Linked DNA regions of Homo sapiens. The protein of the gene in region 1 purifies or fractionates together with the protein of each later gene. This does not show direct contact. Each region holds a gene or a part of one and is shown in the gene's direction. Other genes may lie near its edges.

Evidence for each region.
Region 2: the proteins of TOP1 (region 1) and HNRNPC purify together in Homo sapiens (affinity purification with mass spectrometry; 3 studies listed by BioGRID and IntAct, with this or other methods). This does not show direct contact.
Region 3: the proteins of TOP1 (region 1) and TARDBP purify together in Homo sapiens (affinity purification with mass spectrometry; 2 studies listed by BioGRID and IntAct, with this or other methods). This does not show direct contact.
Region 4: the proteins of TOP1 (region 1) and TOP2A purify together in Homo sapiens (co-immunoprecipitation; 4 studies listed by BioGRID and IntAct, with this or other methods). This does not show direct contact.

What each region holds. Positions count from the first base shown.
Region 1 is NC_000020.11:41,031,820-41,038,844, forward strand, and holds part of TOP1 (DNA topoisomerase 1), read left to right. Parts: intron 1-7,025. UniProt on the Homo sapiens protein: Releases the supercoiling and torsional tension of DNA introduced during the DNA replication and transcription by transiently cleaving and rejoining one strand of the DNA duplex.
Region 2 is NC_000014.9:21,231,441-21,238,465, reverse strand, and holds part of HNRNPC (heterogeneous nuclear ribonucleoproteins C1/C2), read left to right. Parts: intron 1-2,005; exon of another isoform or gene 2,006-2,093; intron 2,094-4,236; 5' UTR 4,237-4,272; coding exon 4,273-4,513; intron 4,514-7,025. UniProt on the Homo sapiens protein: Binds pre-mRNA and nucleates the assembly of 40S hnRNP particles. Interacts with poly-U tracts in the 3'-UTR or 5'-UTR of mRNA and modulates the stability and the level of translation of bound mRNA molecules. Single HNRNPC tetramers bind 230-240 nucleotides.
Region 3 is NC_000001.11:11,008,215-11,015,668, forward strand, and holds the start of TARDBP (TAR DNA-binding protein 43), read left to right. Parts: upstream 1-4,439; 5' UTR 4,440-4,529; intron 4,530-5,501; 5' UTR 5,502-5,513; coding exon 5,514-5,751; intron 5,752-7,454. UniProt on the Homo sapiens protein: RNA-binding protein that is involved in various steps of RNA biogenesis and processing.
Region 4 is NC_000017.11:40,393,876-40,400,900, reverse strand, and holds part of TOP2A (DNA topoisomerase 2-alpha), read left to right. Parts: coding exon 1-51; intron 52-237; coding exon 238-372; intron 373-491; coding exon 492-692; intron 693-833; coding exon 834-1,029; intron 1,030-1,769; coding exon 1,770-1,861; intron 1,862-1,963; coding exon 1,964-2,128; intron 2,129-2,259; coding exon 2,260-2,343; intron 2,344-4,435; coding exon 4,436-4,618; intron 4,619-5,361; coding exon 5,362-5,452; intron 5,453-7,025. UniProt on the Homo sapiens protein: Key decatenating enzyme that alters DNA topology by binding to two double-stranded DNA molecules, generating a double-stranded break in one of the strands, passing the intact strand through the broken strand, and religating the broken strand.

The sequences.
Region 1 (7,025 bases):
TCTATTTTCTTACAGAGCTGAAAAAGGAGAGAAGGAAGGATTTGATAATTTGTCATTTGCTTTTTATCTAAACATGCTTTTTGAAGAGAATCTGCCACCATAAAGTTCTGACATTGGTGTAATTATTCTTTGTGAATATTGTCTGGAAGATGTGGTGTTGGTAACTATGCTTGCTATCTCAAGTAATACATTGTTAACCAGTGATTGATTTATGTAACTATGAAAAAAACTTTAAAAAAAGTAGAAATCAATGTTTAATTATGCCCAGACATGTCATTATTGAACTTTGTATTAAGAGATTGTTTAAGCGTGATTTTAAGAGGGCCTAACCCATCTTACAGATTAACTGTACAAGTTCATATATTAAAATCAAACGTCTCTCATTTTGCCTGCCCTCATCCCCTAAGATATAAAAGATTCCCCCCCGTCCCCCCACTTTGGAGCTCATTCTTCGCAATATTTAAAATTGTAGCTCTTTGCATGTAATTTAGAACATTCTGACCCATACTCAACTGCTGGGAGACTCTGTTATTTATATTTAAAATGTTGACAGTGAGTTAGGAATTTGGAGCAGAAACCATATCTAAGTCTAAGTGAAAAGACTTCCTAAGTATTGGTAGAACTAACTGTAGTGGGGCTGAGTCATTATTACAGTACTGTACAGGCTGCGTAGCTATCTGTAGAATTGATAATGGTAATACCAGGTTAAAGTGTTAGCGATTCTTCTGCTGTTTCAGAGGTCTTGAAGTTTTTGCCTGTCTGCTATGGAGATAGGGAGTTCTCCCCCATTTGACCCCCTTAGCAAAGCACAATACTTGGCTCCATCAGTCTTTAGTCTAAGAAGTGATATATAGGATCATGGTTTGACATCATCTTGTGCTGATTCTGGTTGGCTTAATGGAATCAAATTGGATGAAGGTAATTAAATATGAATTGTTTCTGATGCTAATAGATAGTTGTACTTCTGTCTGTTGGGTATGGGTTGGGATGGGCGGTAGCATAGCTGATTGCGGTGGGGGAATTTCAGATAGCTGATGATGTGGCTATCTGAAAATTGCCACTACATTTTTAAAACTGAAAAGTGATGGTACCGCCAAATGAAATCTGCAGCATCCTCAGACTCAATCAGGAAATACTTAAGCATTATGCTCCAGGGTGGTTTTCTTCCCTTACATTGCAACTGGACTCCTTGAGGCACCTTTTTAGAATTAGTGAGCCGCTAGGATTTTTATACTATGCTTTGACATAAAAGAAAGTTGCTTGTCAATATGTGTTTTTTTAGTTTACCAGCATATCAGATCTCACAAACAAATTTTAGGCTCGGATTGGATGTTTCTAGTAAAAACAAGAAAATCCAGGCATCACTAAAAGAATCAGAAATACGTTGTGGCTTGAAAGGTGCAAACTAAATAATATAGCTAGCAGTAACGGTCACCAACTCCTGCTTTTCTTTGGTTCAGTAGATAGAGTAAAATGGAAAATAGGAAACCAAGGTCAGTCCCCAAATCTCATTTTAACCAATAGCAGCAAAAAAAAAAAAAAAAAAAAGGAATTGAGTCTGACTTTTTCCCCTTGCTGTCAGCATAAAGATGGGGAATTGAGAGAGTTGGAAAGACATTCATTAGTTTGTTCAGATTATTAAATAACATGTCTTAAAGTTTATATTCCAAAATTGGGCTGTGAGGTTTTTTTGTTTTGCTTGTTTTCAGTGCATGTGTGGGGTGGGGAGGTGCAAAAAAATGTTTGCCTTCTAATATACAGCTTTGTTGTATATTAATTATATAGTAACAGTTGTCCCTGCTGCTAATGGTATGGAAAATGATTCTGTTGTGCTTTCTGAATACATATCATTTTAGAAGTTTCAGATTATACTAAAACCATGTTATTTCATATTAGTTGGACATGAATGCATATTTATATGACACATCATTATCAACTTTTGCCTTTTGCCATCTTTTTAGTGCAAAGTAAAACTGATATTCTTCAAATCCAAAGTCGTTTCCTCAGAAGTGTGTTTTGTGAGGGATTGCATCTTTCCCATGTGAAACTGTGTCGAACTCCAGTAAACTGTGTTTGCTTGGGAAAATGAATTCAAATGTAATTAGTTTGAATGAAGCTGTGGAAATGTTTGAAATGAGTATTTTGACATTGGACCTGGAGGTTTAAAAAAAAAAACCCTATTGAAAGAATAGTAAAATATATTGGATGTGGAGGTGAGAGTCAGTTGAGTGAATTTTCTGTGTTGTATGGTTTAGATTATCTGACTATCCCTTAATTATTTTGAAACCATTAACTTTGGATAATAAGGGCATTTAGGCAAACAGTTGACACATGGATTTCTTAAGGTAAAAAGTTTAGAGACTTCCAAACTAGTCCTTAAGAGGCGAATGGGTATTGTGTTTAAAGGAAGCTTTCAGATTGTGTTTAAACTTCGAGTAGTAATATTTGGAACTGTCTTTTCTCCCTATTTCCATGCCTCATACATCTCAAGTTTGAGCAGCAGCTTTCCATCCCCATGGCTCCAGGCCAATAGCTGCAGTAGAAAATCTAAAATAGAGGCCAGGGTTGGAATAATTAGCATTTTGCCAACCCCCACCCTCCCTGCCACCTGCCTATCTAGATGTGGACAGTATGTGCTGTGTTGATAGCATAGGGCCTGGGAAGGGTGGAGAGGGATGTAAATGAGGGCAGGGTGGACAAAGTTTGATTGGGGGTTGCGGGGAAGCTTGTAGAGGAATGTCTGTTAGATATTGATGGTATTTTGGTGGCGTTATGAGAAATGGCTGATAGTTTGCTGAAATGATTTAATAGTAAATAGATATTGTTGAACATTTTCTGTGTGTATAGGAAAGATCCTAGATATTTTTCACACTGGGAGAGAAGTGATGTTACTGGTATCTCATGCATATCTCTGGAGTATATAGATCGTAATATCAACTTTGGCTATCTGTATCGAAGTTTGTATTAACTGTCTTTATGTGTGTCATTTATGTCTCTTAACGTTTAGTAAGAAAGAAATTCCAAGGAAGGTAGGCAACTTTTAATTTTAACTTCTTTCCTTTACTTTTTTTTTGGGCGGGGTGGGGGGCAGACAGGGTTTCTGTTTGTTGCCCGGGCTGGAGCGCAGTAGTGTGATTGCAGCTCACTGCAACCTCTGCCTCCTGGGCTCAAGCGATCCTCCTACCTCACCCTCCCAAGTAGCTGGAACTACAGGTGCATGTCACCACGCCGGGCTAATTTTTGCATTTTTTGTAGAGACGAGGTTTCTCGCCATGTTGCCCAGGCTGGTCTTGAACCCCTGGGCTCAAGCAGCCTGCCCACCTCAGCCTCTCAAAGTGCTGGGCATGAGCCACTGTGCCTGACCCTTAATTTCTTTTTGGTAGGTATTCATTTTTCATTTGTTGTCTTAAGCTTCTAGTTTCACTCACTTACCTGTCTGCTAAATTTTTCTGAAATGTGTAATAAATGTTTTAATTTACCATCTCCCTTCTACCCTTCCCATCAGATTTGGGGTGGGGAGGCATCTCTACCAGGCAATTAATTCCCCTCTGAGCCTTTGAAATTAACATTTTTGTTTCTGTGGATTCAAGGAGCCTAAAGAACACAGTTCATTAGCATTCCTAAGAAACACCTAGGTAAGCTCCAACAAAAGATGTTAAAGCAATCAGTATTTTTAGGGACTTCAGATCTCCTGTATTTGTTGTTGTAAATGATGATGTTGGGAAAAGAATTTAACAGATCCCTGGGTATTCTGACGTTTTCCTATATTTTAAGAACGAAACCGACCCAGCCAGCTTGTGGTCCCATTATTCTTTATATTGTTTTTCTTAGCACACGCTAGCAAAGATAGATGCCTAGGACTTTTCTTGGCTATTGGAGTTTATAGAAAAAAAGTTCTTTGTTGAAGGTTAGTCCTCCACCAGAATAATACACCCTTTTTCCCCTTAGTAGAAGTCCAAATGTTAATCTTGCTATCATATATGTATGAATGCCCAGATTTATAAAGCTTTGTAGGTATATTACTGATTGTGCAGGAGACTAATCTAGGAGGCTTCAGGATCATTGTCATTTGTGGATCTCATTGGCTAAGACCTTTTACTTAACCTGACTCCAGTAAGGTAGCCCCTTTGTTTCCTTGTAGTTGACTATGTGAGCTCTTGCCAAGCAGCAGAAGTGGGATGAAGGGAACTAATTTTGAAAACTTATTAGGCACCACATTTTTATGTGCATTAAATCTGAATTGAATAAAGATAATATAGATTGCATAGGCTTATGGGGAGAACCAGAGACCAGGAAAGGAAACGTTTTTTTCTTTTTACCCTTTATGCCTTTTCATGTCCCCTTTTTGATAACATGCTGCCTTGGTCCAGATTCTGGAAACCCCACTCAGGCTGTAATTGGTAAGCTTCTAGTACAGATGTCAGAACCTGCCCTTGATTATCTGCTGTTAGAGATAGCTTGGACCCTTTGTATGTGGAATGTTAGGTCTAGGGGAAGAGTGGGGGTGTGAGGAGACAGCTGTGGTAAAATAGAAAATTGGTGTAGGATTCCGAAAAATCGAGATAAGTCCCTGTTCTTCCTATGAAACATGATCTGACCACTGAACCTTGTTTTCTTATCCATAAGCAAGGATAATATTTATGTTTCACAAACTGTTGAGAATTAGATAAGTATATGAAGGTGCCTCTCTGTCCTCATTGTAAAATGTAAACTTTGATGAGACAGCCTCTATTCTCAACTGGATCTTTATTTTGAATGTTAGGTTTGAAATAGTGATTGATGTTGGGGAGTCTGTCTTTCATTGGTATTCCCTGTTAAAGTTTTAAATCTTCTTGACATTTACACAGTGAATTGTAACATGTAACTAGTGTTGTTGAGTCTTTACCTAATTGAATCAGCAGAGCCTACACTGATGTCTTCCAGTTACAAAGCGGTCACTGTAAAGTAAAAGGTGTCTTCATATCTAGGTTTGGGCTGAGAAGGATCCAATTGTATATCTAGTTCCTACTTTTCTTTTTTTTTTTTTTTTGAGATGGAGTCTCACTCTGTTACCCAGGCTGGAGTGCAGTGGCGCAATCTCGGCTCACTGCAAGCTCCGCCTCCCAGGTTCACGCCATTCTCCTGCCTTAGCCTCCTAAGTTGCTGGGACTACAGGCGCCCGCCACCACGCCTGGCTAATTTTTTGTATTTTTAGTAGATACAGGGTTTCACCGTGTTAGCCAGGATGGTCTCGATCTCCTGACCTCGTGATCCACCAGCCTCGGCCTCCCAAAGTGCTGGGATTACATGCATGAGCCACCGCGCCAAGCCTAATTCCTACTTTTCTAAGAATGTTTACAGCAAAGTGGTCATTGCCAAAGGAACTTGTAGCAGTACAGAAGATGGGCTCAGAAATGAAAGAAGTCTATTGATGTGACTAATTTCTCAACCATTTAATAGAATTATGGATTTTCTATTAAAAATAACTTGACCCTTTTCGATGCATTTAATAAAATGCCAAGTTCATTATTTGTTAATTTTTTAAAACCACAAAATTCAATATGTCTTGTGTCAGCATATTTTTTCAAAGGCCACTATTTTACTTCTCCCCCAAAACGTTTTTAAATTAAACAGAGAACTCTCAAAGCACCTGAGAATTACTTCAGTTTTTCATTTATTCAAATAGTTGCTTAAAGTGACCAACTTGGTTTTCTTTGAAATAGTAATTCTTGGGAATAAGAATACCTTAAATAATATAATAAAGCTTATGTGTGAGAATTTAGTACCAAATGCCGTGTTAACAGTTATGCGTGAGTATAGGCATTTGGGAGATTCCATGAAAAAATTTGATAAAGTCAGTAGAAATTTCAGTAATGGCTCATAAGTCTAGCTAATGCTGAATATTGAATTGCCTTGAATTTGTTTTTTTGGAAGTGTTACTTAAAGGAAATAAACAAAAGTCATTTAAGGATGTGTTCACTAGTGTTCATTAGGTTTAAGCCAAATGGATCTTAGTAGAGATCTTACGCCATTCAGCAAAAGGATTATCACAGAAGCATCACAACAGGCGCAGACTTAAATTCAATTAAAAGTAGGCAGGAGGACATAATTTTGTTGTATAGAAATTATGGAATAGGGCCTAATTTTAAAGAGTCTTCAAAGATAAACATATCAGGAAAAATATAGCTCATAAAATATGGGGAAAAAAATCTGGGAAGATGAGTATTTGTTAATGCTCTGTAGCTCCATTGCCCTCAGTATACAAGGAATGTGCCCACAATAGGGTTGGATTTAAAAGTCTTCAAAGCTTTGGTCTCTTTTTCTTTCGTTTTCCTCTGATACAGAATGCGAATAGTCTCCCGGCCTCCAACCCCCTCTACATCCCCACCACCCCATAATAGAGACTTAAAGGGAATTTAAATTCGAGTTCTTGAGCTTCTGCTCAATGGCTAGGTCTTTGAACAAGTTAATATCAGAGCCTTAGTTCTTCACCTATAAAGTAGGTTTAATACTTACCTTACAACATTGAGGATTAAAGAGCATGAGAGGATTACTTTATGAAAGGTGAAGCTTAGAACAGAATTTTTAGTTCCTTGCCAATGCTAAAAAACAACAACAACAACACCTTTTTCAGAAATTGCTTTATTAGGCTTTTGTACAAAGGGAACATCTTTACTTTCTTTAAATTTGCACATATATCTATTGTGAAATTTTAACCAAGCTGGAGGGGTCACTAGGGAGCATTGAGTATGATACTATTGCTGTAAATCATAGAAAGGCTGGCTCAGGAGGGTACTGACTTGCTTTGACTTTGCGGCAACTTCAGTTGTCCAGTGACAAGGCTTGCTGCATACACACCACTTTGTTTGTTTCTCATACCTTAAATTGTGGATTAAAAATCTTTGGGGCAGGCCTGGAGGCTCATGCCTATAATCCCAGCACTTTGGGAGGCCGAGATGGGCAGATCACTTGAGCCCAGGAGTTCAAGATCAGCCTGGGCAACATGGGAAAAACCTGTCTCAACAAAAAAAATACAAAAATTAGCC
Region 2 (7,025 bases), on another chromosome or scaffold:
CTGTGAAAATGATTGTAAAGATTAATCACAAGCAGAGTACCCACAGAACATTTTAAGATATTTTGATGTGTTTCTGTACTGTCCGTTCTTAAATGATTTTTATGTAGTTCATTTATGTCTCCTATGTATTGTACGTTTTCAGATACTATTTTTTTGACTCAAATTATAATTTGCACATCACTTGAAGTTGTATTTTTAAAAGACTATTATTGCTGGACATTTATTACTATTGGGTTGTTAGTTGTTAGAACTCGGTTATAAAAATTCATATAGAATATGACCAAGTAATTTAGATCTGTATGAGGCAAAAAGCAAAAGTAGACCTATTCATTCTACAAGTGGTTTTTACACCTTCCAGATGTAAAGGGAGTAACAAGGCAAGAAAATGGGATCAGGGCCGAGTGCAGTGGCTTTCACCTGTAATCCCAGCACTTTGGGAGGCCGAGGCAGGCGGATCACCTGAGGTCAGAAGTTCAAGATCACCCTGACCAACATGGAGAAACCTGGTCTTTGCTAAAAATACAAAATTAGCCGGGCCTGGTGGCGCATGCCTGTAATCCCAGCTACTGGGGAGGCTGAGGCAGGAGAATCACTTGGAACAGGGAGGCGTAGGTTGCAGTGAGCCAAGATTGCTCCATTGCACTCCATCCTTGGCAACGAGTGAAACTCCAACTCAAAAAAATTAAAAAAAAAATGTGATCAAGGAGTTTGTTTTACTTATCTAAACTATTGTACTACTATAAAAGGATGCTGGCAACCTGTTACATGAAAGAACTGAGGGACTGTTCTTAGGATTTCTAACAACAGTCTGCGTAACATGTTAAAAGTGGTGCTCGAGAAACCACACCATACTACCTAGAGAGAAATGGTATTGTTTAAGCATCAATAACACCACAAAAAGGTATTGCCACTTGTAGGACGAGGTAGTCTTGACAAAATATTGCAGATGAAGCTGAGTAAGCCTTGGTCCCAGCTGCTGCTTTCAAGAGTTACAGAAGAATATGTGGAATTGTTCTGAGAGTATCAATCCTGGAAAATACAGACTGGGAAACTACAAGTTAATACTGTGGATTCTTAAACAGATAAATTTTAACCTAATGCAATAGAAGCGGAACTTACCTACAAAAATGCTTCAAATGCATCACGTTTATTTTTCTGGGAAGACTAGAATGTCTATAGTTATACATTTAGGCATTAGAATTATTTTAAAAGTGAGAAAGTGCTAGTAAAGTCATAATGGTTGTTACCTTTTGGTGAGAGGAAGGGGGATTGGCAGTGGAATCAACCACATAGGGTTTGTTTACTTATGAGACTTTACAGGGATGCAACTGCTCTTGCACCTTCACACATTTTTATTGAAGTCCCTTGTGCTCACCCACTATTGGAGCAGGTGAAACTTCTAAGTTTTAACTGCTTTTCTAAAATTTCGTTCCTGTTGCTTTTCAATAAATAACTGCTGGTTATTTTGGTATTCTTGTATTTCTAAGTCTATTATTCTCCAAGTTGCTTACCTTTTATTTCTCCCACAGTCAGTGAAACCATATATGCTGGCTTGCCTTTACTGCCTTGCATTTTGGAATTTTGATTTAAATGCTGTCTGTAGGATAGTGATTTTGCCATCTTGAGTCTTATTTTGGGAGTCAGAGATTCAAAAACTACTCTGCTCTTGCTGACCCCTTCCAAGAATCCCAGTTCTTTTCCAGTAGTTTCTTTGTGTTACAGTATCGTCCTCCCTTTATGGAAATTTCACCTGTATGATACTTTAAAATTTTGAAGTAGAATGAAGTGTGACTTGACATCATTTGGTTATTTCTAAAACTTCAGGAAATGTACCTCTTCCATAAAATTTGAAGTAGCAATACCACTGGAATTTAAGGAAGCTCTCAGGACAGTCTTTGTTACTATTTGTGCCCTGGATTTTCCCTGAAATGTGGTACTCAGCACATGGTTAGTAAATATTTGATCCCCAAAATGAATGAATTTGTAGTGACTGTTCATTCCTTAGGAGGACACGTTACTAAGAGTGGAATTAATCCGTATTGTGAGTACGTCTGTCTTTACTGTTGCCTCCATCTTGAATTTAAGTCCTCATAGTAAGTATGGGTATTTTATTAATTTTAGGCAAACTTTGGAAGTTGGGATTTTTGTATTTTAAAAATAAGTAGTTGATGATTTTTGTAGCAAATTTAATAACCAGACCATAAAGAAAATGAGAAATCATATCCTTAAACTCATAACAACCATTGCTAGCATCCTTGTATGCCTGGATGCTTTTCTACTGAGTTTTTCCTTTGTGGATCTTTGAGAGAATTAAGGCCTGATACACATGAAAAATGCCGTGGGGTATGAATTCCTTGCATCTTGATTAGTACTAGCTATGTACTCAGACTTGTGAAAATAATACTAGCTATGTACTCAGACTTGTGAAAATTGAGAAAATGGTCATTTAAATCCATTTCTGTCTTATTCCAAAGGGTACCCCTTTCAATCACATCTGTATTTTTCTGCAAATGTCCATTTGGAACATTGGACTGTGGTTTGATGGGTTTTTTCCCTTATGGTCAGTATTCTGTGTTGGCTTACGGAGCCCCTCACCCCTGGTAATTTCTTCTCATTAAACCTATGGAGATTATATTTTCTATTGATAAACCTATTTGTGAAAAATAGTTGCTTAAAACCAGATTATACCTCCACTTGTAATAATGGGAAATCTTAATAACCAGCAGTAGTATCTGAAACCAGTTAGGCCTCAATGCAGATTTTTGTTTTAATTCCTCTTTTTAGTGTCCTCAGACTTTCTGGCATACTTAATAGCTGAAAGGCTGTTGGTGGATTTCAGTGGCTACTGTTTGTTAATTTTTATTGCTTAGTGTTAAAATATTAAGAAGTTTTTGTAAAGATATACTTTAGAAAGTAACAAAGACAGACTTTTGAATTTCAGAAAGATTTGGAAGGAAGTGAAGTTTTGTTTGAGCTTTTAAATCAGTACTGCCTGTTAAATGACTGTATTAAGCATCAGAATGATAGGAGTCATGTATATATGAAATGGTGTTAAACTACCTGTTTTTATGTACATATATGTATACATTAGACTTTTTTACATCATCCGTGAGAACTAGTTTGTCATGATTCACTTGAGGATTGGAAGGATAACAAATACTGGAATCTTTTGAGATTTATCAGTACCTTTCAAAGGGATGAAGGGGAAATCAATCTTAAGAATGTTTTTAAATCTTGTTCAAGATTGGGGGTTGGAGTGGGAAGAGGCAGGAAACAAAATGCTAAAAGAATGAAATAAAACATTTTCGCTTTACGGGACCTGAGATGGTATTGTGAATCTGCATATGGTTATGGTAGGATTGAGCCTCCATCACATACATAAAGACAGATAATTTTTGGTTTTAAATAATGCGTGGAAAGTTGTGTATTTTTCTTTAATTCCCCAATCTTTAATTTGATTCATGCCGTGTTCCACTGGCTAGTTTTATCATCATCACCATCCGATATTATTAAATGTCCTATATTTTAGGTTATATAAAAAGTAGCCTTCGAGTCATTGCAGTCTGTAAAAAGATGGTATTGATACTTATGTATCTAAAGCATACTGCAGATTAATTGAAGTATCTGGAAATAGGTGTTTCCAGTGTAAATGAATTGATTCTATTTATTGCCTTTTGAAGAAAATTATACTTAATGGGTAAGTGTAAGCTATCCATATTAATCTAGCTAATGAATGGCTTGGGACAGAATTTGACGTTTGCTATGCTGTGTGTATATATACAGAACCGGTGAAACTCAATAAAAGCAACGTGAATCAAGATTATTGATGGCAGGGAATAGTTAGCATGACCTGTAATGTGAAAAACAGCAGAAACTGGTGTCAGAGAATTTAGGCAAATCTAATTTGCTTGAGTACTTAGAGGAGGGCCACTTGGAATTATGTCCAAGGAAATTATATTGCCAATGATCTGCCAGGGAGAATTTTTTTTTCCTGAGAATTTAGAGTTTAGTGCTGCTGAAATAGAATGGAAGAGGAAGAAGTTGACTTTCTAGAGTATATTCAGAGGCTGGAGTCTCTGAAATTATTAGCAAATACATACTTAATGCTGTGAGTCCCTTTAAGTTGCCTAATACTCTGGGCAGTTAACAGTGATTCAGAGTGAGAGTGGAGAATGTTTTATCAAGGAATATTGTTTTTAGCATCTGTTCACCTGTATACTTTTTTTTGCTTTACAGTTTTCGGCTTTGTGAGAAACCTTACCATCAAACACGATGGCCAGCAACGTTACCAACAAGACAGATCCTCGCTCCATGAACTCCCGTGTATTCATTGGGAATCTCAACACTCTTGTGGTCAAGAAATCTGATGTGGAGGCAATCTTTTCGAAGTATGGCAAAATTGTGGGCTGCTCTGTTCATAAGGGCTTTGCCTTCGTTCAGTATGTTAATGAGAGAAATGCCCGGGCTGCTGTAGCAGGAGAGGATGGCAGAATGATTGCTGGCCAGGTTTTAGGTAAGTGAATTTTTTCATTGATGATGTAATTCAGGCCTGAGTTTTTCTATTCACGTTTTTTTTTTGTCTTTATGTCTGTAAAACTGACAGCATGAGATATTCTGGATATTGCGACTGTTTAGCCTAATAAAAATACATTAGGCTTATAGTTATAATTGGCTAAGTAAAGGATATTCTTCATTGTACCATTTTGTGTAGTAGAGCTAGGACAACTCTACTACAATCGTGAGTAGGGGGAGCTGGGAATGACACTTCACAATGTAAAAACGTTGCCTAAATGGTTGTGTCCTGCCCACAGCAGACTGGAGGAGCCCTCTAGTGTTGATTGCTTGTCTCCCCATTGGGATTTCACTCCATCCGTTGGGCCGACTGCAGTTTGGCTCAGTGTTAGATTTTCTTGTATTTTAAAATGTAATGACACCTCAGAGTACTTACTACCTATGATTTGGTTTATTCAAGCCAGAATCCAGTGTCCACATGTTTATTTTATTAGTTGTACTAGATGTCTGTTTTAACTTCTCATTTTATGTGTACCTTGTGCCTCAGTTTCAAAATTATCATACCTTTGTTTTTACAAAGTTAAGATGATTATTTTTAAATTTATATTTGTGATTTAGTTTATTCTTTGTATACATTCTACTATGTATATTGACTCAAAGCATGGTAGGTTAGAGTTATGTGAAACAATTCTTTGATAATGTTATGTAACCAACCAGATACATAATTTGGGTCTATTTCATTGTTTTTACATCTTACTGGATTGCTTTTTCAGAAATTTAATTCTCTTTAGTTTTGAAACACTTTATATGGTTTCAAAGTCAGAATTGTAAATGAGGTTAATGTACCAAAACCTGAAGGTTATTCATGTAATGGTGTTCAGCAAATAGACAATATATTCAGTCCTTTTTTTTTTTTTGAGACAGAGTCTAGCTCTGTTGTCCAGGATTGTGTGCAGTAGTGCAGTCTTGGCTAATTGTAACCTCAGCCTCCCGGGTTCAAGCGATTGTCCTGTTTCAGCCTCCCGAGTAGCTGGTACTACAGGCATGTGCCACCACACCTGGCTAATTTTTGTATTTTTTAGTAGAGGTGAGGTTTCACCATGGTGGCCAGGCTGGTCTTCAACTCTTGACCTCAGGTGATCCTCCCGCTTTGGCCTCCCAAAGTGCTGGGATTACAGGCGTCAGCCATTGGACCTGGCCTGAGTCAGTTTTCAGTTGGTCATTTGATGAGCTGCTTTTGTATAAAAAGGGAAGATAAATAAGATTAAGTTTAAGATATCCACATTTGGCCAGGTTCGGTGGCTCATGCCTGTAATTCCAGCACTTTGGGAGGCTTGAGTTGGGCAGGCCATGAGGTCAGGAGATGGAGACCATCCTGGCTAACACCGTGAAAAGCCATCTCTATTAAAAAATAAAATTAGCAGGCTGTGGTTCTGGGTACCGGTAATCCCAGCCGCTCAGGAGGCTGAGGCAGGAGAATTGCTTGAACCCGGGAGGTGGAGGTTACAGTGAGCCGTGATTGCACTCCAGCCTGGGCAATGGGGCAAGACTCTGTCTAAAAAAATACCCACACTCATCTAGTTAATGGTTTGAGGTGGAATTTGGAATTTATATTTTGGGGCATTTGTATATTAAAATGAAGCTCATTTTAATAAAAGCAGTATATATGAAAATGGAGTTACTGTTGACTCGAGTGCTGTAGCATGACTGGGAAGGTAAACTGAATTTTAGAGAGTTTTTGGCTTTTTGACATGGGCTTTTTAGAACAAGGAGAAGATAAATTCTTGTTTGGTAGGCAGTGGGTGGCAGGGTAGGTAGCTGGGCATACGTGTTACAAATTGTATTTGAAAACCAGGGTTGTTTCCCTTTGCTCTTTTATTTTTTTTGGTGTGTGTAAAGGTTGTTTAAGCAATTGATCAATTATTCAGAAAGCAGTCGTTAACCCAGGATATTTTACGTGTAGAACAGCTAATCCTTACTTATAAAGAAAATCTGAAGTTGCCTTTGAGGATGATTTGAGGTTGTCACACTTCACTATGTTAATTTGTGAATTGGCATATATTTTAATATATTTCATTCTAATATATTTGTAATAATTCGGAATGAGCTGAACCATTCTTGGAAAGGCAACCAGTGATAGTTTTCTCTTGTAATAGTAACTGAGTGAACAGTCAGTACCTTGAATGGGGAGAGTTGAGTTGAAGTGGTATCTGAGGGTGGAGAGTACCAAAGACAGACTTAATGTTAGTCTCAGGAACACTTGAATGGTAAAGAACAGACTACAAAGAAACGGAAGATGAAGCCTTAGCCTTGTAAAAATTTGTGAGCCTTTTTAATATTAAAAGGAGAGATGAAGCTGAGCTTGATAGCTCACACCTGTGATTCCAGCACTTTGGGAGGTCAAGGCAGATCACGTGACCCCAAGAGTTCGTCCCTACGAAAAATAGAAAAATTAACCAGGCGTGGTGGTCCCTGCTACTTGGGTGGGAGGATCACCTGAGCTTCGGAGGTCT
Region 3 (7,454 bases), on another chromosome or scaffold:
GTCTTGGTTCACTGCAACCTCCGCCTCCTGGTTTCAAGTGATTCTCCTGCTTCAGCCTCCCAAGTAGCTGAGATTAGAGGCATGCGCCACCACGCCCGGCTAATTTTGTATTTTTAGTAGAGACAGGGTTTCTCCATGTTGGTCAGGCTGAACCCGACCTCACATGATCCGCCCGCCTCGGCCTCCCAAAGTGCTGGGATTACAGGTGTGAGCCACCACTCCCGGCCCTAAAGTTACTTTTATTTAAATATCTTTATTGGCTGGGTGGTGGTATGTGCCTGTAATTCTAGCATGTGGGAATGCCAAGGTGAAAGGATCACTTGAGGCAAGGAATTCATAACCAGCCTAGGCAACATAATGAGACCCTGTCTTTACAAAAAAGTTTTTTTAATTAGCCAGATGTGGTGGTGCACACCTACATAAATAAATAAATAAATAAATAAATAAATAAATAAATAGGGCCGGGCACAGTGGCTCACGCCTGTAATCCCAGCACTTTGGGAGGCGGAGGCGGGCAGATCACGAGCTCAGGAGACTGAGACACGGTGAAACCCCGTCTCTACTAAAAATACAAAAAATTAGCCGGGCGTGGTGGCGGGCACCTGTAGTCCCAGCTACTTGGGAGGCTGAGGCAGGAGAATGGCGTGAACCCGGGAGGTGGAGCTTGCAGTGAGCCGAGATTGGGCCACTGCACTCCAGCCTGGGTGACAGAGCAAGACTCCGTCTCAAAAAATAAATAAATAAATAAATAAATCTATGTATCATTATTGCCCTAGTATTTCTTTCAGTTTTGTCTTTTTTTTTTTTTTCTTTTGAGACAGAGTTTCACTCTTGTTGCCCAGGCTGGAGTGCAATGGTGTGATCTTGGCTCACTGCAACCTCTGCCTCCCGGGTTCAAGCGATTCTCCTGTCTCAGCCTCTGGAGTAGCTGCGATTGCAGGTGCCTGCCACAATGCCCTGCTAATTTTTTGTATTTTTAGTAGAGACGGGGTTTCACAATGTTGGCCTTGAACTCCTGACCTCTGGTGATCCACCCACCTCGGCCTCCCAAAGTGCTGGGATTACAGGCGTGAGCCACCGCGCCCAGGCTTCTTTCAGTTTTCAGGAATGTTGTGGAGCTGTGTCCTGTTTGCCTCATGGAGCTGATGAGCTGGGAGAATTCAAGGGGGTTGATGGAAGGGGAGAAGGTAAGTCCCCAAGTGACCCAGTTGAAAACCAGGGCCTGGGCCAGGCACAGTGGCTCATGCCTGTAATCCCAGTACTTTGGGAGGCTGAGGCGGGAGGATTGCTTGAGGTCAGGAGTTGGAGACTAGCCTGGCCAACATGGTGAAACCTCGTCTCTACGAAAAATACAAAAATTAGCCAGGTGGGGTGGTACACGCCTGCAGTCCTAGCTACTTGGGAGGCTGAGGCAGGAAAATAGCTTGAACCCGGGAGGCAGAGGTTGCAGTGAGCTAAGATTGTGCCACTGCACTCCAGCCTGGGCGACAGAGCAAGACTCTGTCTTGAAAAAAAAAAATGTTGTGTTTCAAACAACTTTTGACAATCAGTGCTGTAAAGCTGAATCCCAGAGACAACTGAGATAGGAGCAGGAAGATCTGTGGTCCAGTCTCCCTCTGGCCTTATAATTATCTTCCTGAGTTACTTACCTTCTTTGAGACAGTGTTTGCTTGTCCTCCCAACTAGCCTGAAAACTTCTTAGGAGAAGGGCCAGCCTTTGGGGTCATGTTCCTGTGTGACCTGTCTCTAGGAACTTCTGCATACCCAGCTCTGCCCACTTGGAGCTAGTGTCCAGGACTCCACAGCACTACCCGCACTAAATACCTCGGTCTCAGTCTTGTGACAGAAAGTGGCCAGTGTGGTGGACATAGTGCAGAGGTTTAGGGTCTGACCAACCTGGGACAGCAATTTATGGGCTAGGTGACATCCTTGAGCAACTGTATGACCTCAGGCCTGTCATATGGTCTCTGAGCCTCAGGTTTTTCTTCTGTAAAATGGGAGTGATAAAACCGACTTCTCTGCTGGGTATGGTGGCTCACGCCTGTAATCCCAGCACTTTGGGAGGCTGAGGCAGATGGATCGCTTGAGCTCAGGAGTTGGAGGCCAGCTTGGGTAACATGTCAAGACCCTGTCTCTACAAAAAATATAAAAAATTGGCTGAGTGTGGTGGTGTGCACCTGTGGTCCAAGCTACTCCGGAGGCTAAGGTGAGAGGATCGTTTGACCCCTGGAGTTAGAGGTTGCAGTGAGCCGAGGTCACTGCACTGCACTCTAGCCTGGGTGACAGAGTGAGACCCCATCTTAAATAAATAAATAAAGTATTTTGTGTAAACACTTGTAACTGTATTTCATTGAGTGTGATACATGTATATACAAAGAAACATAAATAGTTGCCAGTTAAACTATGACACATCATCATCAACTGGAACTGGAACTGAAATCACATACTGACTTCAGCAATGTGAAACATTGGCCGGTCGCGGTGGCTCACGCCTGTAATCCCAGCACTTTGGGAGGCCGAGGCGGGCGGATCACGAGGTCAGGAGATTGAGACCATCCTGGCTAACACGGTGAAACCCCGTCTCTATTAAAAACACAAAAAAATTAGCCGGGCGTGGTGGCGGGCGCCTGTGGTCCCAGCTACTCAGTAGGCTGAGGCAGGAGAATAGAGTGAACCCGGGAGGCGGAGCGTGCAGTGAGCCGAGATAGCGCCACTGCAGTCCAGCCTGGGCAAAAGAGCGAGACTCCATCTCAAAAAAAAGAAAAAAGAAAAAAAAAAGAAATGTGAAACAAAGGCCGGGCGTGGTGGCACTTTGGGAGGCCGAGGTGGGCGGATCACCTGAGGTCAGGAGTTTGAGACCAGCCTGGCCAACAGGGGTTAAAAATACAAAAATTAGCCGGGCATGGTGGTGCATGCCTGTAGACCCAACTACTCAGGAGGCTGAGGCAGGAGAATTGCTTGAACCGGGGAGGCGGAGGTTGCAGTGAGCTGAGATTGTGCCACTGCACTCCACCTTAGGCAACAGAGGGAGTCTGAAAAAAAGGAAGAGAAAAGAAAGAGAGAGAGAGAGAAAGAGAGAGAGGTAGGGAGGAAGGAAGGTGGGAAGGGAGGGAAGGGGGGGAAAGGGAGGGAAGGGAGGAAAGGAAGGGAAGGAAAGGAAAGAAAGGAAAGAAAAGATAGAAAAGAAAGGTGGCTCGTGCCTGTAATCCCAGCACTTTGGGGAGCTGAGGCAGGCGGATCACTTGAGGCCATGAGTTCGAGATCAGCCTGGCCAACATGGCCAAACCCTGTCTCTACTAAAAATACAAAAATTAGCCGGGCATGGTGTCTTTGCACGCCTATAATCCCAGCTATCCCTTGAACCTAGGAGTTGGAAGTGGCAGTGAGCTGCAGATTGCGCCACTGCACTCCAGCCTGGGGGACAAGAGCGAGACTCCGTCTCAAAAAAAAAAAAAAAAAAAGTGAAACAAAAAGTGTGCCTTAAAATAGATGAAGTACTGTATTATTATTATTATTAAAGGGCTGGAGCCAGAACAAGTTAGCATTTTGTGCCTCGAGATTCAAATCCCAGGTCTACCATTTATTCCTTGGGTGACATTTTTTTGGGGGGAGGGGCTGGAGGACAGGGTCTCACTCTGTCGCCTAGACTGGAGTGAAGTGGCGCGATCTCGGCTCACCGCAACCTCCGCCTACCGCGTTCAAGCAATTCTCCTGCTTCAGGCTCCCGAGTAGATGGGACTACAGGCGCGCGCCACTACCGCCCGGCTAATCCTTGCGTCACTTTAAGCAAGACACTTGATCTCTCTGTGCCTCAGTTTCCTCACCCGCAGAATGAATATCAATAGCTCCTGCTACACAAAACTGTTTGGGCTATTAAATATGTGAATACTCAGAAAGTACCTGGCACAAAGTAGCCTTATCATTGCTATTATTTAGAACAAAGTTATTGTTTCCAGGTTTGGAGGTGGGCTGGCGGAGGGAGGAGAAGACGCACTAGGTTGCCTTTCAGAAAAGGGGTCCAGGCCTTATCCTGCCTCCCAGGTGGACTCGGCCCGGGATCCCGAGCCCCGCCCCCTCCAGGCCCCGCCCCGCCCCGCCCTCGCTGGCCGAGACTCTGTGCTACTCTCGCGCGCTTTGAAAGTGCGCGAGCTCCGACCGAGACCTGGGCCGGCGGTTGGTCGGCCGAAACCATCTGCTACGTTACGTGGGGGGAGGTCAGCTCCTATACAGCCACACTTTTTTCAATCTTCAGCTTTTCAGGCCTAGGTCCTGGTTTTATTTTAGCTTTCAGAGCTTCTCTGTAGGCTTGAATTTCCAGGAGGCAGCCCGAGTCCCTGGGGAGAGGGTCATCGTGGCTCTCGTCGGTGCCTTCCACCTCTGGACAGGCAACCGGTGGGAGAGGACGCCGGTGGGCGGGGGGAGGAGGCGGCCCTAGCGCCATTTTGTGGGAGCGAAGCGGTGGCTGGGCTGCGCTTGGGTCCGTCGCTGCTTCGGTGTCCCTGTCGGGCTTCCCAGCAGCGGCCTAGCGGGTGAGTCGCGGAGCCTTCTCACTGAGGACGCCGTAGGTGCCTCGGCTTCTGCATTGGGGCGGCCCGAGGCAGACGCAGCGGCTTCGGACCCTGCCCCGGGAAGTCAGCCGTGAGACCGGGCCTAGTCCTGCCCGAGCGGGCTCGCGCGGGAGCGTCGTTAGGTCCTGGCACGGGGAGGCCGGTGGCGCCGAAACGGGGGGCCGGGCCCGCGGTGCCGCGTAGCCTGAGGCGGAGGTTGGCCCCGGACCCGGACAGTGCCGGAGCCTTCGGTACTTTGTACTTCGAGGGACGCTGCCAGCTTGGGCCTGGTGCTCCTGCGCCCCACCCCGGGCCGCGCCGAGAAACTCCTCCCTCGGCTGGCACGCGCGGGCTTCTGGGAGGCGACGGCCGGCACCGCCAGGACCTGTCGCCGCGGGCCTTGGGGCTCGGGCTCGCAGAGCCCCCGGAAGCCCCAAAATGAGGAACAGAGGGAAACTTTTCTCCTGTTCTTTACACCTGGTTCACTGCCCATATTCAGTCTTCAGGTTCAGCTGATGGATCGCTTGCTTAGGAAAATCGACTGGGACCTATCACGCCCATGCCTCAGCCAGTTAGGCTCCTCCTCTGCCTTCAGGATTACTTAACGACTAACCCGATTGTCATAAAATAGCTACTGTTTATTGTTCCCTTGCATACCCTAGCTTGTAACCAGCAAGCCACGTTGGACTCACAGTTACAGTTTCAGTACCTGACGCATCATAAGCCTTCAGGGAAAGTTTTTTGAATGAATGAACTGGCGAGGCATCACATTTTGATAGGAAATCACTACCCTTACCTTCACCTCGTCATTTTTCAGGGATAACCAATGCATATACGAATCCAGACAAGCATTTTTCTGGAAGTCAGAACTCTGACATGGTTTGGGTATTATCATTATAAGGAAACAGTTATTCTGACATGAATGTTGTTCATTCATATCTCTTTTCTCTTTAGGAAAAGTAAAAGATGTCTGAATATATTCGGGTAACCGAAGATGAGAACGATGAGCCCATTGAAATACCATCGGAAGACGATGGGACGGTGCTGCTCTCCACGGTTACAGCCCAGTTTCCAGGGGCGTGTGGGCTTCGCTACAGGAATCCAGTGTCTCAGTGTATGAGAGGTGTCCGGCTGGTAGAAGGAATTCTGCATGCCCCAGATGCTGGCTGGGGAAATCTGGTGTATGTTGTCAACTATCCAAAAGGTTTGTTACCATTTGGTTTTTGTAATCATGCTGAAGTGTGTTCAGGTGTGTGTCTCATCCATGGATCTTAGCCTCTTTTGGTGGCAGAATGTCTCCTGAAACTTAAGTATTTCCTTGAACTTCAGTGTTAGACAAGTTTGGAAGACCACGAGTCTAAATTTATGGAAACTGGGGATTGTAGATCATTTTAAAAGAGAAAACAATGTATTTAAAAAATATCTGAATAAACTTTGCCAAGTTGATGATAAATTTCAGGAATCACTAAGAATGTTTTGTACATAAATCATTGTTGTAAATAGATTCTTCTGAAGTGCTTCAGTGTTTGGATTTGATCATTGTCCTTTTGGTGTTACATCATTCATTCAGCAAATCTGAGTTCATTTTTTCCCTTAAATGAGCAAACAGTTGGAGTAGCCAAATCTTGAATTAGTGCAGTTCCAATTACAATTTCGAGGTTCTGGTCTTATCCTTCTCTCTGCCTCTTATCAATGATGTTCTAAATCTAAGAAAAGGAAGCATGAAGTTTAAGAAGTGTGCCAAGGAAATACCTAATTTCAGCATTTTGAAGTAGTGTGCTGTTAGTAGTCGATCTGTCTGTGTGTTCCTTTTATTATAACTTGGTATTGCAACAAAGTCCATCAAATTTGGTCAGTATGCAAGACACCCTTTTACATGTCTAGGAAAACTTTAGGGCTAGGCACGGTGACTCATGCCTGTAATCCCAGCACTTTGGGAGGCCGAGGCAGGTGGATCACCTGAGATCAGGAGTTTGAGATGAGCCTGGCCAACATGATGAAACCCCATCTCTATCAAAAACACAAAATCTCTGGATGTGGTGGTGGGTGCCTGTAATACTAGCTACTCAGGAGGCAGACGCAGGAGAATCGCTTGAACCGGGAGGCAGAGGTTGCAGTGAGCAGAGATTGTGCCATTGCACTCCAGCCTGGGCAACAAGAGCGAAACTCCGTCTCAAAACAAAAAAAAACGAAAACAAAAATTGGCGTGGTGGCGGGGGCCTGTAGTCCCAGCTAGTCTGGAGGCTGAGGCAGGAGAATCGCTTGAACCTGGGAGGCGGAGATTACTTTAAGCTGAGGTCGCGCCGCTACACTCCAACCTGTGACAGAGCAAGACTTCGTCTCAAAAAAAAAAAAAATTGATAATGTAAACTCGGGGTTTTTAGTATGCTGTTTCTTCAGCCAGTGGGTATAGATTAATATTTACTCAAATTTAAAATGTCAGGCTCGGTGCAATGGCTCACACCTGTAATCCCAGCACTTTGGGAGGCTGAGGCAAGCAGATCACCTGAGGTCCGAAGTTCAAGACCACCCTAGCCAACATGGTGAAACCCTGTCTCTACTAAAAATTCAAAAATTAGCCAGGCGTGGTGGTTCGCGCCTGTAGTCTCAGTTATTTGGGAGGCTGAGGCAGGAGAATTGCTTGAACCGGGAGGTGGAGATTGCAGTAAGCTGAGATCGTGCCACTGCTCTCTGGCCTGGCAGCAGAGCGAGACACCGTCTCAAAAAAAATTTTTTAAATGTCATTTAATTTATCTCCCCAGGCTGGACATGGTGGCTCACATCTGTAATCCCAGCTACTCGGGAGGCTGAGGCAGGAGAATCACTTGAACCCGGGAGGCAGAGGTTGCAGAGAGGGGAGATTGCGCCACTGCACTCCAGCCTAGGTGACAGAATGAGACTCCGTCT
Region 4 (7,025 bases), on another chromosome or scaffold:
ATTGTAAATAACATCAGGCGTTTGATGGATGGAGAAGAACCTTTGCCAATGGTAAGTATTCTGTGTGTGTTAAGAGCCTTAACTTTTCCTTGGGTTTCAGTTGAATAGATTGTATGATTAAAGATGATGCAAACATAAAATTTAATTTCATACTTTAGATTTATTGTTAAACGCTGTTGTGATTTCCGTCTAGTATCACATTTAGAAAACATACTGTTTTTTTAAATGCCAATTTAGCTTCCAAGTTACAAGAACTTCAAGGGTACTATTGAAGAACTGGCTCCAAATCAATATGTGATTAGTGGTGAAGTAGCTATTCTTAATTCTACAACCATTGAAATCTCAGAGCTTCCCGTCAGAACATGGACCCAGGTAAATAATTATGGATTTCTTTTTTAGGTTTGTGATCAAAAGAAATACCTTTTGTACTATTGCTGTTGACTATTCAGAAGCCTATATTTTAGAAACTTCAGGATTATTTCTTTCTTTAGACATACAAAGAACAAGTTCTAGAACCCATGTTGAATGGCACCGAGAAGACACCTCCTCTCATAACAGACTATAGGGAATACCATACAGATACCACTGTGAAATTTGTTGTGAAGATGACTGAAGAAAAACTGGCAGAGGCAGAGAGAGTTGGACTACACAAAGTCTTCAAACTCCAAACTAGTCTCACATGCAACTCTATGGTATGTATTTGTTTTGTGAGATGTACACGTTTCAATTTATATTAAAGATTAATATCAATTTTAAAAGTATATCTTAGTCTACCTTTATAAAGTTTAGCCAATTTGTCTATTCTTGGCTCTAATCTTGTTTTCCTTTTTCAGGTGCTTTTTGACCACGTAGGCTGTTTAAAGAAATATGACACGGTGTTGGATATTCTAAGAGACTTTTTTGAACTCAGACTTAAATATTATGGATTAAGAAAAGAATGGCTCCTAGGAATGCTTGGTGCTGAATCTGCTAAACTGAATAATCAGGCTCGCTTTATCTTAGAGAAAATAGATGGCAAAATAATCATTGGTATGTTTTGGGAATAATAACTGCTTACTAAAACTCTAGTTACGCCAAACTTTCTTTAAACATTTTTGGTGAGAGTAATGGTGGAGAAAGAGGCAAAATCCATTTAATTCACCTGGTCACTTATACACGCATTTCTTTAAAATATCTGATTAGGTATTTATAGTTTGAAAGAGATGATGTTTCCTTGACTGAGCATCTTGAGAAATCAAGATTTAGTTGACAATTAGACATGAGGAGAATAGAGAGCTAGAAGACCTTGCATAAACTGATTGACCAAGAGAATAGATACACTAATCATGTCTACAGGAACAGAAAATAAAAGAGACAGAGAAGAGATAATAAATCTGATGGTAAAAAAAAAAAAAGGCAGGAAGATTACGAATGGCTTCTACTCTCTGGGTGTGGTGGCGCATGCCTGTAATCTCAGCACTTGAGCTGGGGAGGTCAAGGCTGCAGTGAGCCTAGGTAGTGCCACTGCACTCCAGCCTGGACACAAGAGTGAGAGAGACCCTGTCTCCAAAAAAAAATGATTTGATCATATATGATTTGACTGCCCCCTTGTGGTAATTTACATTTGTCAATGGTTTAGGGAGACTTGCCTGTATACCGGGATATACAAATTTATGCAAGCACGAAGACAGTTTAATTTCCAGTTTTAAACTTTTGACTTGTGTAAAACCTTATCCCCTTCCTAAAATATTACTCAAAATCATTATCTCTGTTTACTTTTTTAAAAATAGAAAATAAGCCTAAGAAAGAATTAATTAAAGTTCTGATTCAGAGGGGATATGATTCGGATCCTGTGAAGGCCTGGAAAGAAGCCCAGCAAAAGGTAATCTTGGGTGGCACTTTTCTATATTGTTAAAGACTATGTATTGTACAATGTTTATGTTTCACATTTTCTAATAAAGCTAGATTTTAATTAATCCTTTAGGTTCCAGATGAAGAAGAAAATGAAGAGAGTGACAACGAAAAGGAAACTGAAAAGAGTGACTCCGTAACAGATTCTGGACCAACCTTCAACTATCTTCTTGATATGCCCCTTTGGTATTTAACCAAGGAAAAGAAAGATGAACTCTGCAGGCTAAGAAATGAAAAAGTGAGTTGATAGTAGGATGGTACATGCTGCTTAGTTTTGTTCTATTCTAATGGTAAAAGTAAAATTGTGTGTTGCATGAAAATGCTGCTTGTATACATATATTAACTCAATTTTGTAATTATCTTATGAAGGAACAAGAGCTGGACACATTAAAAAGAAAGAGTCCATCAGATTTGTGGAAAGAAGACTTGGCTACATTTATTGAAGAATTGGAGGTATGTAGTTTATAATGCCCATGTTAGAATTTTTATTAATGAAATAATATATTCCAGCAGTATACCTTTGTCAAGATAGTTCACAATTGGCAATAAAAAGAAAATAAGAGGCATAAGGATAAATTCCAAATAGCGTATAAAAGAACAGATTATTGGCCAGGTGCAGTGGCTCACGCTGGTAATCCCAGCATTTTGGAAGGCTGAGTTGGGTGGATCACTTGAGGTCAGGGGTTCAAGACCAGCCTGGCCAACATGGTAAAACCCCATTTCTACTAAAAACACAAAAATTAGCCAGGCATGATGGTGCATACCAGTTACTCAGGAGGCTGAGGCAGGAGAATTGCTTGAACCGAGAGGCAGAGGTTGCAGTGAACCGAGATCACACCACTGCACTCCAGCCTAGGCAACACAGCAAGACTCCGTCTCAAAAAAAAAAAAAAAAAAAAAGGGACAGATTATTAAATACTACTTAGAATACAAGGCCGGGTGCGGTGGCTCACACCTACAATCCCAGCACTTTGGGAGGCCGAAGCAGGCAGATCACCTGAGGTTGGGAGTTCGAGACCAGCCTGACCAACATGGAGAAACCCTGTCTCTACTAAAATTGCAAAATTAGCCAGGCGTAGTGGCACATGCCTGTAATCCCAGCTACTTGGGAGGCTGAGGCAGGAGAATCACTTGAACTCGGGAGGCAGATGTTGCTGTGAGCTAAGATCACACCATTGCACTCCAGCCTGGGCAACAAGAGTGGAACTCCGTCTCAAAAAAAAAAAAAAAAATACTATTTAGAATACAGTAAATGATACCAGGAGACTGCCCAGACATTCAGACATTTCTGGACAAAAAAAGAAAAGAGCAGGAGTTGATTTTTGATAAAGGGAAGAACATATTAGGACTGAGAAGATAAAAAGAGCCTAAATGTGGAAGAAGACCACCAACCCAGTCCCCCAAGTCAACTTAAAAGGACAAAGCCACAGGGCATGGTGGCTCATGCCTGTAATCCCAGCACTCTGGGAGGCTGAGGTGGGCAGATCACTTGAGGTCAGGAGTTCGAGACCAGCCTGGACAACATGGTGAAACCCTGTCTCTACTAAAAATACAAAAATTAGTTGGGTGTGGTGGCATCCGCCTGTAATCCCAGCTACTCAGGAGGTTGAGGCAAGAAAATTGCTTGAACCCAGAAGGCAGAAGTTGCAGTGAGCCGAGATTGCGCCACTGTACTCCAGCCTGGGTGACAGAGCAAGACTCCATCTAAAAAAAAAAAAAAAAAAAGGAGAAAGCAGGGCTATCCAGATGGTTTCAGAAGGTTATTTGTTACTTAAATCTTCCTAATAACATTTGTTTCTCAACATTATTTTAACATAAGAAAAAAGGCCAGCACTGTGGCTCACACCTGTAATCCCAATGTGCTTTGGGAGGCTGAGGCAGGAGGATCACTTGAGATTAGGAGTTCAAAACCAGCTTGGGTAACGTAGCAAGACCTCATCTCTACAAAATGTTTTTTTTAAATAGCCAGGCATGGTGGTGTGGGCCTATAGTCTCAGCTACTCCGGAGGCCAAGGTGGGAGGATCACTTGAGACCAGGAGTTCAAGGCTGCAGTGAACTATGATCATGTACCATTGTACTCAGCCTGCGTGTCTCTTAAAAAAAAAAAAACAAAAAAAAAACCACCAAAAGCTTTATTTCTTAAATTTAACATGCAAATTTGTATTACTGCACTTCAGTATAGATGCCTAGCTCATTGTAATCAGTTGGTTGGATAAGTGTGCATCACTTCCTTTCATATTTTGTATGTGAGTTTACAAATATATATGTATATACATGTTTTATTTTTAGTTTCTCCCTTGTTTTCCTCAAAAAGGTTAAGTGGTAGAATCAGGAATAAAACCCAGTCCTTCTGTCTCCACACCTTCCTTTTCAAGGTGTGTTTTAATTACATCTTCACTATTGTTGATAGTATACTAGGTTATGGAGCAATTTATCACTAGTTTTTAAGATGTAACAAAATGAAATCAGTTTAACTGTTGGGTGTTTAGATATTGTAATGTTTTTGTTAACATTTAAACTTGCTTTCTTATATCCCTTCTGTAGGCTGTTGAAGCCAAGGAAAAACAAGATGAACAAGTCGGACTTCCTGGGAAAGGGGGGAAGGCCAAGGGGAAAAAAACACAAATGGCTGAAGTTTTGCCTTCTCCGCGTGGTCAAAGAGTCATTCCACGAATAACCATAGAAATGAAAGCAGAGGCAGAAAAGAAAAATAAAAAGAAAATTAAGGTAATACTCTTGTGGTGGCTCACACCTATAATCCCAGCACTTTGGGGGCCAAGGTGGGTGGATCACTTGAGGTCAGTGGTTCAAGACCAGCCTCCCAACATGGTTGAAACCCTGTCTCTACTAAAAATTAAAAAAATTAGGCGGGCATGGTGGCAGGCGCCTGTAATCCCAGCTACTCGGGAGACTGAGGCAGAAGAATCGCTTGAACCCGGGAGGCAGAGGTTGCAGTGAGCCAAGGTCACACCACTGCACTCCAGCCTGGCCAACAGAGCAAAACTCCATCTCAAAAAAAAAAAAGAGGTAATACTCTTAAAAATATTATGCATAAAATATTGATGCATATGTCCACTTAAAATTGAAAAAAAAATGTATAAAATTTTTTTGTTGTTGTTGTTGAGATGGAGTCTCGCTGTGTTACCCAGGCTGGAGTGCAATGGCAGGATCTCAGCTCACAGCAACCTCCGCCTCCCGTATTCAAGCGATTCTCGTGCCTCAGCCTCCCAAGTAGTTGGGGGCACATCACCACACCCAGCTAATTTTTGTATTTTTAGTAGAGATGGGGTTTCACCATCTTGGCCAGGCTGGTCTCGAACTCCTGACCTCAAGAGATCTGCCCACCACGGCCTCCCAAAGTGCTGGGATTACAGGCGTGAGCCACCGCTCCCAGCCAAAAATGTATAAAATCTCTAATCCCATAGTTCAGAATTTATTCTATATCCAACCCTAACTTTGCTATCTTTTAGAATGAAAATACTGAAGGAAGCCCTCAAGAAGATGGTGTGGAACTAGAAGGCCTAAAACAAAGATTAGAAAAGAAACAGAAAAGAGAACCAGGTATTACAACATTTTTAGAAAAATGGTATAAAGTGAAGATTAAATTGTGTTTGTTACCTAGTACATTCCACATAGATGTTCAAAACCTTTTTGTTGAATTGAGAAACGTGAAAGAGGACTGTATCTCAATTCTACTTGGACCTCTTTTTTTTTTTTTTTTTTTTTTTGAGACAGTTTCACTCTTGTTGCCCAGGCTGGAGTGCAATAGCACAATCTCGGCTCACTGCAATCTTCACCTCCTGGGTTCAAGCGATTCTCCTGCCTCAGCTTCCTGAGTAGCTGGGATTATAGGTGCATGCCACCACGCCTGGCTGCTTTTTGTATTTTTAGTAGAGACGGGGTTTCACCATGTTAGTCAGGCTGGTCTCAAACTCCTGACCTTGTGATTTGCCCGCCTTGGCCTCCCAAAGTGCTGGGATTACAGGCGTGAGCCACTGCCCCTGGCCTGGACCTCTTTAATATCGTCCTTGGGATTTGATTCATTATAGAAAATATTTTGTAATGAAGTAGTTTGTTAATTTGAATTCCTTAATTGGGATCTAAGAAAATACCCAGTTTATTAGATTTCATTTTCTAGCCACTTACGAGGTTCTAGTATACAAAGTTTCTTAAGAAAAGTGACTACATATTAGTAATGTTTGTAGTATCTCTAGAGTTCAACATCATGCTTCGGATATAAATAATGTCCACTCAATGAACTAAATAGAATTAATAATTCTGTTAATCATTTGATAATGCCTTTACTGTCTACTTTTTTTGAAACATCTTTATTGAGATATTCACATGCCAAATTTGCCCATTTAACGTATACCATTTGGCTGGGCGCCATGGCTTATGCCTGTAATCCCAGCACTTTGGGAGGCTGAGGCTGGCGGATCACTTGAGGTCAGGAGTTCAAGACCACCCTGGCCAACATGGTGAAACCCCATCTCTACTAAAAATACAAAAATTAGTTGAGTGTGGTGGTGCGTGCCTGTAGTCCCAGCTACTCGAGAGGCTGAGGCACGAGTGTCGCTTGAACCCAGGAGGCAGAGGTTGCAGAGAGCCAAGACTGTGCCATTGCACTCCAGCCTGGGTGACAGAGCAAGACTCCAACTCAAAAATAAAAATAAAGTATGCCATTCAGTGGTTTTAGTATAGACAAACAGTTTTAATACAATTTATTGCCCCCCAAGAAAACTGAACTCATTAACAATCATTTGCCATTTGCCACCAACTCCTCTCCACTGGGTGACCACTAAAAAATCTAGGGGCATTTCCTATAAATTAAATCATATAATATGTGGTCTTTTGGAGCTGACTTCTTTACTTAACACATTTTCAAGGGTAACCCATGTGGCAGCCCATATATTAGTACTTCATTCTTTTTTTTTTTTTTTTTTTGAGGCAGAGTTTCGCTCTGTCGCCCAGGCTGGCATGCAGTATGCAGTAGTAGTGAGATCTCGGCTCACTGCAACCTCCGCCTGCTAGGTTCAGGCAATTCTCCTGCCTCAGCCTCCCGAGGAGCTGGGATTACAGGCACGCACCACCATGCCCAAATAATTTTTGTATTTTTAGTAGAAACAGGGTTTCA